Linked DNA regions of Homo sapiens. The protein of the gene in region 1 interacts with the protein of each later gene in a biochemical or structural test. Each region holds a gene or a part of one and is shown in the gene's direction. Other genes may lie near its edges.

Region 1 (3,500 bases):
CTAGTGTGAGGAGGTTACTGCTTCCAAGTTAAATTGTCTTTGGAAGCTAGAAAACAAGAGTATAATTTCTCACACTTCCGGTTGGCCAGGAAAGCAGGATCTTAAAAAGACAAATAAGGCTTGTGGAATCCTCTTAGGCTGGGGGTGATCAGAAACTCACTAGCATGTTATCTTAAAAAATAGCACTCCACCAACATCTACCTACTGGCACATCCAAGTATTCTCCCCTGACCCAGAGAAACATTGCTGGGTAAACTGTTTCCTAGAAACCAAGAACTGGCTGGGCACAGTGGCTCATGCCTGTAATCCCAGCACTTTGGGAGGCCAAGGTGGACAGATCATTTGAGGTCAGGAGTTCAAGACCAGCCTGACCAACATGGTGAAACCGGGCCTCTACTAAAAATACAAAAATTAGCTGGGCGTGGTGGTGCATACTTGAATCCCAGCTGCTTGGGAGGCTGAGGCAGAAGAATCTGCTTGAACCCAGGAGGGCGGCAGAGGTTGCGGTGAGCCAAGCCACTGCACACCAGCCTGGGTGACAAAGCAAGACTCTGTCTCAAAAAAAAAAAAAAAAAAGAAAAGAAAAAGAAAAAAGAGAAACCAAGAACTGACCAAAGTTCAAGGTGTAAGACTGTCATCTTGAGAGTTGTGGGCTGTTGTTTTTACATTTTTTCAAAACAGGAAAAAAAATTACCTTGGCCTTTCTAGAAATTCTCCTAAGGCACATATTGACATAAGCCAGGTTCTTCTCATGGGTCAGAAAATTGGCTTGATAAATCCATAAGGTGTGCATAGCAGTGGGGAGGCATTGTCTCCATCCCTCCTTCCCACCCCGTTTTGCCTGCAGCCTAATGATATTGCATCCAGCTGTTTACGTGGTCACTGGGAAAGAAATCCCAATGAGCAGTTTTACAGTATTGACCATGGCACTCACACTGCCAGGCACTTGGTTGGGCACAGTCCTTTTCTCCAATATTTGTGTTCACCCATTTGGAGGCATTACCAGAAACAGCAGGGCTATGGAATATGTCCAGATTGAGTGTTGTTTCTCCCTTAAGCTTTGAAAAGGGTGGCAGTGTTGATCTGCAGATTTAGTAAAATTATTATACAGCAGATTGACAGGAAAATGTGAGAACTGATGGGAAAAGAAACCTCCTCATGATATAGTTAAGAGTTGGATTTGTTGGCATTTAATTGAGAATTAGACCAATTTTACATTCTGCACATTTTCCCCTGTATTTTAGAGATCTCATCAAAGTGCTCAAATGGTACGTGGACCGGATCACAGAAGCAGAGCGGCAAGAGCATATCCAGGAGGTGCTGAAGGTGATAACATGCTGTTGATAACAGCAGAGTCTAACAAAGCTGTTGCATGCTGATGCTTAAACTAATTGGTTCCTCTACACAGACAGTAATGGGTGATGATGTATTACTGACATTCCAATTCAAGGATCTTAATCAGTTTGTGACTGCTTGAGAGCTGATGAAATTTGAAGGGGACTTTGCCAGGGTAGTCTACTGGAAACTGTTCAGGATTGAATCCTTGTTCCTCTGGGCTGGAGAGTACTTGAAGTGAAGTCTAAGATGAGCAGGAGAGAGGGAGGGTTTATGAGAGAAGTCTATATGGGGCAGTTAAGCTTAGAAGTTCCTGGCTCTTGCTTCCACCAACCTGACAGAGACCATCGGAGAACCATTTATGTTAAATTTTAAGAGCAAATAGGGTGGCTTAGCGGGGATTATAATGAGGAAACCTGAGGCTTTACCGGGTCTTGTGGCTTAACGCTGCCCACATCGCTGGGCACCATATGCTCAGTTGTCTGTGGAGATACTAATCCCTTACTTGCAAACATGTTGAAAAAGAGTACAAATTCTTAAAGGAATTGTCCAGTAACAGCCCTGGTAGTCTTCTGATTCCTGTTGTTGAGGACCATCCTATTTGGTGTCAGTAGCTTTAAGTAGACAATGTATACATTTTATAAAATAGCATTTTGTGAATTATTCATTTGTAATTTGGGCTGATTGAAGGTAAAATGCTAAGTGGCAAGAGTACTACCTGTCAAAACAAAATTATTTTTTAAAAAACAGTTATCTTTTTGTTGACTAAATTTAAAAAACATCTGAGGGTCAAAAACACTTAGTGTTCATCATACTCCAGAATGATAAAATTTTTTTTTTTTTAATTTTTTTTTTAGACGGAATTTTGCTCTTGTTGGCCAGGCTGGAGGGCAATGGTGCATTCTCTGCTCACTGCAACCTCCGCCTGCCAGGTTCAAGCAATTCTCCTGCCTCAGCCTCCCAAGTAGCTGGGATTACAGGCATGGGCCACCATGCCTGGCCAGTTTTGTATTTTTGGTAGAGATGTGGTTTCTCCATGTTGGTCAGGCTGGTCTCGAGCTCCTGACTTCAGGTGATCCACCCGCCTCGGCCTCCCAAAGTGCTGGGATTACAGGCGTGAGCCACCGTGCCCGGCTAAAGTGTTTTTAAATTTTCTATTAAAATTCTATTTCTTTTAAATTTCTTTTAAATTTAAAGTGTTTTTAAATTTTTTTTCTCTCATTAGGCATCAGAGAAAAGTGGCTGTTCCCCCTTAAAGTAAATACTGTTCAAAAAAGCCTCACAAGGCCTTGGTGTCTACATGAATAATGTAAAAGTTTAATGCCATACCATGGTTTTTATGCCGTGTCATTGCTAAATAAATACTCTTTGTCTCCTTTGAAGCTAACTTTTAAAAATTGTATTTTTAAGGCACAAGAATACATTTTTAAGTATATAGTTCAATCTCGAAGGCTGTTTTCCCTTGCCACTGGTGGGCAAAACGAAGAGGAGTTCCGCTGCTGCATTCAGGAGCTTCTCATGTCAGTCCGTTTCTTTCTTTCGCAAGAGAGCAAAGGGTCTGGAGCATTATCTCAGTCACAGGTAATTTCTTTTCATCTATGCTGAATAGAAGAAAACGATAAGTGCAGTTTATTTATTTTTACACAGCAGCGTAATCAAATGTTTTCTCCATCAGAAGTCAATTGCTCCAGTTTATATTTGTAGCTTAACCAACTTTATGAGTAGACTTTTAAAATTCCCCTACCTTCTGTGTACCAGCTGAGCAGAAGTGGGTTGCCTTTCCCTTCTCTCTCTGCATGGAGAGGCTATTGGTTTGCATCAGCTTCATTTCCGGTTACCAGAACACATACTGACGACTGGACATGCTGTCACCACCAGCCCTGGGGAAGGAATTTCACTAGGGCCAATCTCTTGCAGTTCTTTTCCCCAAGCTTCTCACTGCATTTTAATCTGTCAACTTGAGAATCATTATATTGGACTCAGCTAAGCTGCATGTTGTTTTGTTTTATTGAACTTGACCCTAATCATCCTGGGACTGATCTTTTAAGACCAGTGCAGAGCTGCTGCTGCCGCCAAACTCCATTACCGGAAGTAGCCCCACATGTTTTTTTTAAGAACAGGATCCATCTACTTCCCAAATAGCATGGCCTTGAATATGTTCCATG
Region 2 (3,500 bases), on another chromosome or scaffold:
GGTAGAGTCTGAATCTAAAATCCACTAAAAGCAAAAGTAGGAGAAAATAAGCCCCAAAAGGAGTGAGCAGGACAGAGAATATGTTCATGAAGGCAGGAACCTTGAGGCTGTTGTCTTCCCTCTGAGTCCCTCCAGCTCAATAAATAGCCCACAGCTCAATAAATAGCTGACAAATGGATGAAAGGAACTGGAGGGCCTAAAAATGAGCTGTGCATTTTCTAACATTGCCAGGACCTGTCCTGGGAGCCAGTTCTCAAAATGGTGTTCTGCCATCACTCTCAGCTGTTGCATGGAAAGTAATCTTGAAAGTTGAGTGGGGCCAGGCGCATTGACTCACACCTATAATCCTTTGGGAGGCAGAGGCAAAAAGATTGCTTGAGCCCTGGAGTTTGAGACCAGCCTGGGCAACATGGTGAGACCCCATTTCTATAAATTTTAAAAATTAACCAGGGCATGTTGGTACACACCTGTAAGTCCCAGCTACACAGAAGGCTGAGGTGGGAGGAGTGCTTGAGCCCAGGATGTCGAGGCTGCAGTGAGCTGTGATTGCACCACTGCACTCCAGCTTGGGTGACAGAGCAAGACCCTGTCTCAAAAAAAAAAAAAAAGAAAAGAAAAGAAAGTTGAGTGGGATACTTAGGCTAGGTAAGACTTTTGCTCTTTGGGGTAAGTGAGCAAAAGAAAATGGATGGCACAGATAATAAATATAATGAGAAGGGATCTGAATGCTGATGGCGACTCCCCCTGACATACTAGGTGGGCTGGTGAATAATGACACCTCTAGTCAACATTTTCTTTGCTAGAAGAAAATAGTGGAAGAAAAAAGGAAAGTTCTTGAGGTAGAGTTCTCACTTGTATCTAGCCTTTTGCAGAGATGCCCAGGCTGACCTGCTTCCTCCCACCGTCATCAATTTATCACCTGGAGGTGACACATGAGAAAAAGAGACTATATGGTGCTTTTAAGAATTAAAGTCAATAGACATGCACTTATTGACCACTCAGCCTCTTATCATTACCTGGACCAACCAGAAGGGACTCTGCATTTCCTTTTCCCTACACAGCACACATCCAATATTGCACTGCATCCTTTGCAACTTATTTTTCCATGCAAGAATTTCTCCTAATTTTTAAACCCAATTTCGTTAATATGAGATGCAAGAAATGAGGCCAACTAGATAGATCTGACCGAAGTACCAAATCCCCAGTGATCCTTCATCATGGTTGCATCCGTCACCCCAGCATGTAAGTAATTCAGCAAGTATTTACTAAGCACAAAGTGAGTTTAGACCAGGATGGGAGCCCACGTTTTGCTAACATCTCTCCAGAATTGGAGTTTAAGGGTAATTTTCCAAGTTGTAGCTCTAGCAGAGGCTTCTATTGCAAGTCTATGAGTATTAATTTATGACTATGGTTATTCTAAGGATGGGATTTTAAGGCATAATCCTAATTTTAAATACTCTGACCTCTTGTCAAGCATGTATTAGCCCTTGTGTCCTACATTTGGGGGTTAGAAAATATGAATATTTACAATACTACAAATGAGAAAAAGGAGATTAAATTGTTTTTTTTTTAAAGGTTGAGATTAGGTTAAGGGCTATAGCAGCCAGTCAGATGGAGCCTTGAAACATTCCATGACTTTGCGTCATGACTAATTCTTACTGACATCCTCTCCAAGAGGCCGGTGTTTGAAATGCTCCAAGATAAGAACAATTCAGTTCTACTAATGAACCAAAGGATTTCTACTCCTTATGAGACTCTTAGGCCAGATTTCTGCACGGCCAGTTTATGTAACTTGGTACTTCAGGACAGACATTCCCTACACAAAAATAACTAAATTGCAGTGTATCTCCTGCTATCCAAAAATCCTTTAGCGTAAACCAGAACAAAACGTGCTGATAAAAGTCAAACAGTGAGTTTCACTTGTGGACTGAGACGAGAGAAAAGCTAAGCTATGGTTATAGGGTTTTTTGTTTTTCTAAGTAATACAAAGCTGTGCAAAAAAGATGTCTTTTTCTTTTTTATCAAAATGACAACTCTGCAAATACAGCAATCTTCTGGACAGCAAATACGTGTCAGTTAGAGAAACAAATGCCATTAATATTATCATGCTTCAGGATGTCATTGCAGATGAATAGCAAAAGGCCATGGAACAATATGAAATTTGAGTTTTTGTTTCTCAACCCAAGTCAAACTTTTATTGTAAGTTATGTGACCTTTGACATTGGAATAAAATACACTTTCTCACTTACTTATTGGGGAAAAAACTATACCATCCAAGCCCAGCCACAGATATTAAATATTAGTATGTTTATTTCTGGGGGTTTTTTTCCCCTGTGAATAGGTTTAAGCTAAGGAGACATTTTCTTATATGGTTATAGGAATAGTTGATATAAAATTTTAATATCTAGATTTTTAAAATGTGGCCGGGCATGGTGGCTCACGCCTGTAGTCCCAGCACTTTGGGAGGCCGAGGCAGGTGGATCACCTGAGGTCAGGAGTTTGAGACCAGCCTGGTCAACATGGTGAAACCCTGTCTCTACTAGAAATACAAAAAATTAGCCAGATGTGGTGGCACACGCCTGTGGTCCCAGCTACTGGGGAGGCTGAGGCAGGAGAATCACTTGAACCCAAGAGGTGGAGGTTGCAGTGAGCCAAGATCGCACCACTGCACTCCAGCCTGGGCAACAGAGTAAGACTCCGTCTCACAAATAATAATAATAATAATTTTTCCATGCTATCATCAAATAGCTAAGTTTTGTTTCTCTGAGTTTAGACTTGAATCTTAGGCTTAAAGGGCACGTTAGTTGTTGTTTAGATCAACTCCCAGCACCTGAATAAATGCCTTCCATGCAATCCTGAACACAATCTATTTTTCTCTATTTTTCTGTACAAAAATAGACAAAATGGTCCATTTTTTAGTACGAAGTGTTGCTCTTGACTAAGAGTATGTTAATGAAGCTCTTTGTCCTTTTTCAAAGCTTACATTCTCAAACCATAACCCTCATATTTGCTTAATGTTAGTGGAACAACTCAAAGGTATACTGTGCCTGTCACAATACAAGAAAGATGCTTTCAGAAACAAAAATGGTTCTTATCTAAATAAGAAGAAAGCTGTCTCCATTTCCATAAAAAGGATTGCATCCTTGCCAGAGAAGATAATAGAGTTTACATACACAGTCAAGAAGAGTGTGGGATAAAGTCATTTTTATTTTCACAAATAAAAAGTGTTTTGGTAACTGGAAGGCAGCCCATATAAAACAAGCTTTCATAGTCACCATTTCCTCAAGCTCTTCCCAGTGAGAGATGGGAAACACTTGAAACTGCTCACTGGAGAAAAAAGGATGATGAGGGTGACTTTACTGTTTATTTGAGGGGTGAGTATGAGGAGGAAGTGATTCTAAACTTCAAACGTGATGAAATATAATTTCTTCATCATGCCTTGATCAAATATAAGATCACTTCATAGAGTTTGTTTCTCTTATATGCCCACCATTTTTTCA
Region 3 (3,500 bases), on another chromosome or scaffold:
GACCTTGGATGAGTTTCCGAACCTCTCTCAGTCTCAGGTTTTTCACCTGTGGAATGGGTAATAATAGTACTTACCACTTGTGGTTATTGTGAGGATTAAACAGTGCACATAGAGCACTCACTATGTACCTGGTACCTAGTTTGTGCTCAGTAAAGGAAGCTGCTTTGCAGCTTTATACATATATTTCAGGTGTGCATGTAGGGAGCTACACGGATGTGTTCAGACTAGTGCCTCAGTAAGGCTGCCGTGAGAGAGGAAGGAGGCACAGAGGTATTCAGATGGTAAAGGGTTAGTGTGCAGGAGGTCTGTGCAGAGCACTGTGATGCTAGGCAGGGATGCCTTTTGAGGATAGATGATCCTACACAGCACCCACAGGCTCCCTGACCCTTCTCTTGGAAGAGCGTTGATGGAATCCAGATGCCAGTTAGAGACATATCTTTGTCATGTGGGGATAAATGTCAGGAAAAACACTTAATGCTCATTTTAGGTTGTGATTTTGGTTTCTTTTGGTGAATCATATAACATTTTACTCTGTGTGTGTGTGTGTGTGTGTGTATGTGTGTGTGTGTGTTTGGGGAAGTGTGAAGAAGGAAGGAGAGAAGGACTGAGAAATGTACATTTTTCCAAGCTTAGTTATTGCTGTTGCATTTGAAGGGGTAGACTGAATCACACTTGAAGTCGTTTCCTTCCCCCTTTAGAATATAGGGATTGTTTTTTGGTTTTGTTTTTTGCTGTTTAAAGTGGAAAATGTTTTATTTGAAGAGTTATTTTTAACAAATGGAATTTTTATGTATTTGTATTCAGAGTAATTGTTATTGAAATAAATCTTCTAATGACATACGGCAAGGAATTTACCATGACTAGATTTTGGAGTTTTTGTGGAACATTCTGAGCTTACATTTCAAATGATTTTGTTTGGAAATATCACATGCTTGTGCCATTTAATTTATAAATCCATCTGTTAATCACTAGAAATTTAATCCGTACACTTGGAGAGAATTCATTGCAGTGCTGTTTGAAAAGAAGTTCGTGAACAAGCTGTGAGGGTTTTTTATGAGCTTGTTGGAGCCTTTTGATTTTAAGGAAAGGAAGGAGTTTGAACAGTGAGCTGTCTTCGTTCCCAGAAAGTTTTAGTTCTGACATTTAATTCAAAGATCTAAAGAGATTCAAGGAGGTCAGAGATCAGAATTTATTAGGACTAGAGTGATGGTAGTGCATCGGAACAAAAACAAAATATCTGTTTTCACAGTCAAATTATTAGATATTTACAAGTTTAATAACATTCTGTGCAAATGAGGATGTGGGAAAACACTCTGTCTAATGAACAATAAGTATAAACTCTCTGAAAAGCCATTTGGCAATATCTTTGAAATGTACATATCCTTTTACCCAACAGTTCCATTGTTAGGGATTTGCCCTAGAACTATAATAGCAAAGATAATTTAAAATACAAGTAGGAGAGTATTATCACAGCATTGTTTAATCACAGCAAATGAAAACAGTGTTTATTAGCCTCATGTTGGATACTGTTCAGTCACTTTAAGAAGTAAGGCAGACACGAATTGGTAGCAGAAGATCTTCATGATTTTTAGAGTTAAATGAGAGAGGCAAGGACATAAGAGTCAGACTAGCATAATCACATTTGTATGCAAAAAGGAACAAATGCATATTTAGGAATATGATGTGTTAAAATGTTTTCAAAAGGATGCATAAAGTCAAATAGCTACCATAGGCGGGGGAAGAAGGACAATGGGTTGGAGATGGCAGGGATGCATCATTTTATGTCCTTTGGTGTGGTTTGAAATATTTTACTGTGTGTGTATTTTAGTTTAAAACAGAAATTAGGAGAAACAAATACCTTTTACCCTATTGCCACTCTTGACACAGCAAGAGTCAATTACTGTTTTAAGAGTGCAAGCTTTACTTTCATGCTCAACTTAATGCCTAGCATTCATGCATGTTTTTTTTTTTAACCCAAAGGATAACCACGATGGATCATCCAGTGAAGGAATCTTTGTATCCAAGATAGTTGACAGTGGGCCTGCAGCCAAGGAAGGAGGCCTGCAAATTCATGACAGGATTATTGAGGTATGTGAATACTGGCCAGTGTCTTTGAATAGGCTGAATGCCATCCCATCTTCGTCTAGCTCAAAGCAAGATGTTTGACTGGGGAGGGAGGCCTAAAGTGGTAGATGGTTGAGCGGGAGTCTCACTTTTCCCATTGTGTGGGACCAGATTGAGTGTTGATTGCCTTGGTGTTAAATTTTTGTTAAATGTAGAAAAGCCAGATTATGAGTGGAATGTTCACAATTTGGCTTTTTTCATGTGGACCTCAATCTGTTTCGTATGCATCAGTTACAGTTTCGCGCGAAAACCGTTGAAGAGTTGGATGTTAGAACCAGATGAACGAACCCTGTTGTACAAATTGTGCACCCTGTTCATATTGATTACCAGGGTACAATTGTGTCAGCTTTGGAGTCATTCTAATGTCCTCAGAGCTCACACAGCACACACTTATTTCTACAAATGCATTGTTCTCTCTGTTAGTTTGTCGTCTTTGCCTGTTGTTAGTTGTACAACCTGATTGCCCAGGGATTTGCAGGCAGAGGTTGATATTAGGGTTCACATATCATCACTTACTCCATTTTCAGTTCGTCATTCATCATTTCAAACTTTTATACAGCAGGTTTGTAGACTCATGTAGGGGAAGTGGATCTCTCAGCCCCACCAGACAACACTTTGTAACAGGGTTGCAGTGTTCTAGGATGCTCTGAGTCACTAAAAGGGAGAGAATGATTTGTTGCCTTCTCATATGGGCTCTTGTTGCAAAGTTTGATATAAATGAGTAATTTTTTACTGGTGTTTTGACCATTTTCATAGCTCTTTGGATGGATACACATATGGGCTAAATTGATTGGCTTTCCTATTAGGCAAAAAGTAAATTTGAGAATCCACGATGATATGCCAGACCCCACAAGAAATTCACCCATGGGCCACAGCCGTAATATAGTGCAAATAGAAGAAACCAGAAAAACAGCACCGATACCAGTGGGTGTTTGTTTTCCACATGCATTTTTATCATGTCTGTATTTCCTGAGTATTTTCATGGCCTATTTCAAAATTTAGGACTGAGTGGGAGCTAGGACCACGAGCTAAGCCATAAGTGAAGTTCACATCACTCACTGGAATGTGGCCACAGGCTTCTCCTGGGGAAAGGAGCCTCAGCAAGACAGAGAACAAAGTCTTGCATTTCCAGTCTCATCTGGACACATTCTGCAACGTGCAGTATGCTTCAGGATAATTTGTAATCCTCAGGAAAATACACAGTTAAATCTCACAGGGAAAGCAAACTGAACTAGTTAGGGTGTAAGGCTCCCTCCTCGGAGGGAGTGTGATGTGCTAACTTACATGCTAAAATGATACTTGATTTTGTTTTAAGGACATTATTAATATTGTTGCATCCCCTTTGAATGTTTGAAGGGTTCTTAAACTTGGAGCTT
Region 4 (3,500 bases), on another chromosome or scaffold:
AGTAAGTGCGCAAGACTGCCCATCAAAGAGCCAGGGCCCAGAGTTCACAGTGGCCCTAGTCACAACAGGCACGAGGTGCAAACAGCCCAGTGTCCATCGATGGAGGAATGGATAAACAGCACGTGGTCTGTCCATACAATGGAATATGATTCAGCCTTTAAAAGGAAGGAGATTCTGACCCCTGCTACAACACTGGGGAACCTTGAGCATATTATCCTAAGTGAAATAAGCCAGACATAGAAAGACACATACTGTAGGATTCAACTTCTGTGAAGTGCCTAGAGTCGTCCAATTCATAGAGACAGAAAGTAGAACGGTGGTTGCCAAGGGCTTGGGGAAGGAGGAGAAAGGACATCTATGGACATTTTGCCATATGGCATAATGGGTGCAGGGTTTATGTTTGCGGGATATTTTAAAGTTCTGGAAATAGGTAGTGCTGATGGCTCTACAACATTGCGAGTATTCTCAATGCCGCTGAACTGTACATTTAAATGTGGTTACAGTGGTAAGCCTCATGTTAGTATATTTTGCCACAGTTGAAAAAAAAAAAAAAAAACAGTCAGCATGTGTGGCCTCTAATGGCAAGTACCATAGCAGCAAATGGAGGAGATCACTGGGCAGAGGAGATCACTGGGCAGAAGTGATCAAGGAAGGCAGCCCTGCAGGACAGGCCCACAGCTGAGCCTGAGAGGGGATGGGGATCTTTGGGGAAGGAGGGGAGGAATTGCTAGGGGCCACAGCAGGGCTGTGCGCAGAGGGAGAAAGCATCAGGAGACAGGGCCACCCTGTGTCTGGGTTGGGGCTGGGTCCTCATGCTCACCACCTGGATGGGCTCACCAAGGCCACTGCATCTCCCACAGACCGGGGAAGAACACACAGTGACACATCTCCAGTACGTCGCATGGCCTGACCACGGTGTGCCCGATGACTCCTCCGACTTTCTGGAATTTGTAAACTATGTGAGGTCTCTGAGAGTGGACAGCGAGCCCGTCCTAGTTCACTGCAGGTATGGCGCTTGCTGTTTTGTTAGGTTTGGAATCCTTTCCCTGTCGGAAAAGGCCTGGAGACAATTGGCAGGCGCCAGACCCACCCTACATCCCACAAAGTCGTGTGCCCTTACAAACCTCTGTTGACTGTGGTTCTTCACCATTTCAAAAGTTTTTTGGAATTTTATGAAATCCTAACTTTGTGAATGTAGCACAGAACTGAAGAAGAAAATCCCCTCACACACCCTTTCTCCTGTCCTTCTGTCAGCTGACCTTCGTCATAGGTGTGAGTGAGAAAGGGAATAGGTTTGGCACTTCACAGTGGCCCTCTTTCCACTGCCTGCTAGCCCCCAGTCTCAGATGTGTGAGGACAGGCTGTCTCAGCCTGTTTGAGAGCACGCCGTGAGTGTGCGTTTTGTCTTCTCGAAGGCCAAGGGAGGAAAGCCCCTTTGGAGTCAGCGGGGAACTGCTCGCTGGGCCATGCAGAAAGGCTACTCAGACAAATCCCAAGTCTGTCTTCTCTCCCCTCTCCAGTGCTGGAATAGGTCGAACCGGTGTGTTGGTCACTATGGAAACAGCCATGTGCCTAACTGAGAGGAACCTGCCCATTTACCCACTGGATATTGTCCGAAAAATGCGAGACCAGCGCGCCATGATGGTGCAGACATCAGTGAGTAGAAATCCAGTAATTACGGTGGCTGGCACTTTCTGAGCACTTACACCAGGCAGGCCTGAGAGAAGGGCTTTGTGAGTCAACAGACTGCAGCTCAGGGGGACTGAATCACTTGCCCAAGGTCACAGAGCTTGTCAGTGGCTACAGCCCACACCCATCTCACCTCTGAGCTCTGCTGCCTCTGTGGTTTATTTCCTGCCAGCCCGTCTGTCAGGGAGCAGCCCTGGTTGCATTCTGTATCGTTGAACAATCATTTGTCCATTATCCTCCCCCGCACCGACCCACCTAGACCTGGGTACTCCTTTTGGCTCAGTGGATGTTGCATATGACCCTACTTTGAGCTCTGTTCCACCCGTGTGGTGCCTGAGTACCTGCTGTGTCCTCCACGGGCAGGCCAGAGCTCAAAGTAGGGTCATGTGCAACATCCTCTTGTCCTCAAGAGGAACTCTAGGGGATAACTCTTGGGGATTTCCCCTGGAACTGCAAGCGGGGCAGTGAAGCGGTGTGGAAAGAGCATGATTAAGGTCCCACCACAAATGGAACAACCTTTGCATAAGTCCTGAACCTCTCTCCAAGCTTCAGCTTCCCTGTGCAAAATGGGGACCATCCCACATTCATTCATTCATTCATTTGACAAAGAAGGGTGCAGAGACAGGCTTGTATCTAGTAGGAGAACTGGATTAGTCTATGCTAAGTGTCAGCAGCGGTGAGGGAAGTTCAGGGCTGTCTGAGAACATGGTGGAAGAGTATCTAAAGCAGGATTTGGAAAGTCTAGGAAGGCTTCCTGGAGAAGTGTCTTCTCTGGTAAAAACCCCCAGGGTACATGAGGAGTTAGCAAAGAAAGGAGCAGGAACTATATGTTCCAACCAGCTCTGTCTCTTCACAGGCTGTGGACAAAGTTTATAAGATTTCCCTAATAAATTTTTAAGCTTTGGTAGTTTTATATTAGTTTGTACCCAGAAAATCTTGTTAAGAGAAAAAAAATCAGCTTATGTTATTAGGGCCATTCTCTGCCCTGTTTTTTGGTATGGAAGACCTCGTGGCTGGTTAAAAAGAAAAAAGTCCATCATCCTGGTAGATTTTCCCAGCTGGAAGCTGGGCACGGTGGCTCACGCCTATAATCCCAGCACTTCAGCAGGCTAAGGAAGGTGGATCACTTGAGATCAGTAGTTCAAGACCAGCCTGGCTAACATAGTGAAACCCCGTCTCTAATGAAAATACAAAAATTAGCCAGGCATGGTGGCATGTGCCTATAGTCCCAGCTACTTGGGAGGCTGAGGCAGGAGAATCGCTTGAACCCAGGAGGTGGAGGTTGCAGTGAGCCAAGATTACGCCACTGCACTCCAGCCTGAGTGACAGAACAGGACTCTGTCTTGAAAACTAGATAGATAGATAGATAGATAGATAGATAGATAGATAGATAGATAGATAGATTTTCCTAGCTGGAGAAGCTCAGTCTAAATGCTTTTATCCCCCCTGTATACTTTGCTACAATATGTTTCTTAGGTATTTGCTAAGATAAATAACTGTATCCTGCAGAGCATCTTTCAGTGGCTCTGCTTTGTAAAACACAATCCAGACTCCTTACCCCAACACAAGGTGCCCACAACCAGGTCCCAGCCCACCTGTGCAGCCCCTCCTCCTCCACATGCCTAGGTGTTGAGTCCAGGAGCAGGCTCCCTGACCCCGTTTCTCAAAATGGGCTCTTACTGAGGCTTCCACACTTCCACTTACAAGAAGGGCTGTCCCGCAGGGACTTTTGCTCCTTCCCACCTCCCCCAGACCGCCAGTTTCTCCCTCTGTCATGTCTCCATGACACTTTGCCCACCCCTCTCTGGGAG

Evidence for each region.
Region 2: the proteins of DOCK4 (region 1) and PDLIM3 interact in a test that uses a peptide from one of them, tested with the Homo sapiens proteins (one large-scale study listed by IntAct).
Region 3: the proteins of DOCK4 (region 1) and PDZRN3 interact in a test that uses a peptide from one of them, tested with the Homo sapiens proteins (one large-scale study listed by IntAct).
Region 4: the proteins of DOCK4 (region 1) and PTPN3 interact in a test that uses a peptide from one of them, tested with the Homo sapiens proteins (one large-scale study listed by IntAct).

The regions. Positions count from the first base shown.
Region 1 is NC_000007.14:111,867,400-111,870,899, reverse strand, and holds part of DOCK4 (dedicator of cytokinesis protein 4), read left to right. Parts: intron 1-1,244; coding exon 1,245-1,326; intron 1,327-2,745; coding exon 2,746-2,916; intron 2,917-3,500. UniProt on the Homo sapiens protein: Functions as a guanine nucleotide exchange factor (GEF) that promotes the exchange of GDP to GTP, converting inactive GDP-bound small GTPases into their active GTP-bound form. Involved in regulation of adherens junction between cells.
Region 2 is NC_000004.12:185,518,508-185,522,007, reverse strand, and holds part of PDLIM3 (PDZ and LIM domain protein 3), read left to right. Parts: intron 1-3,500. UniProt on the Homo sapiens protein: May play a role in the organization of actin filament arrays within muscle cells.
Region 3 is NC_000003.12:73,600,942-73,604,441, reverse strand, and holds part of PDZRN3 (E3 ubiquitin-protein ligase PDZRN3), read left to right. Parts: intron 1-1,980; coding exon 1,981-2,088; intron 2,089-3,500. UniProt on the Homo sapiens protein: E3 ubiquitin-protein ligase. Plays an important role in regulating the surface level of MUSK on myotubes. Mediates the ubiquitination of MUSK, promoting its endocytosis and lysosomal degradation. Might contribute to terminal myogenic differentiation.
Region 4 is NC_000009.12:109,379,808-109,383,307, reverse strand, and holds part of PTPN3 (tyrosine-protein phosphatase non-receptor type 3), read left to right. Parts: intron 1-860; coding exon 861-1,006; intron 1,007-1,520; coding exon 1,521-1,656; intron 1,657-3,500.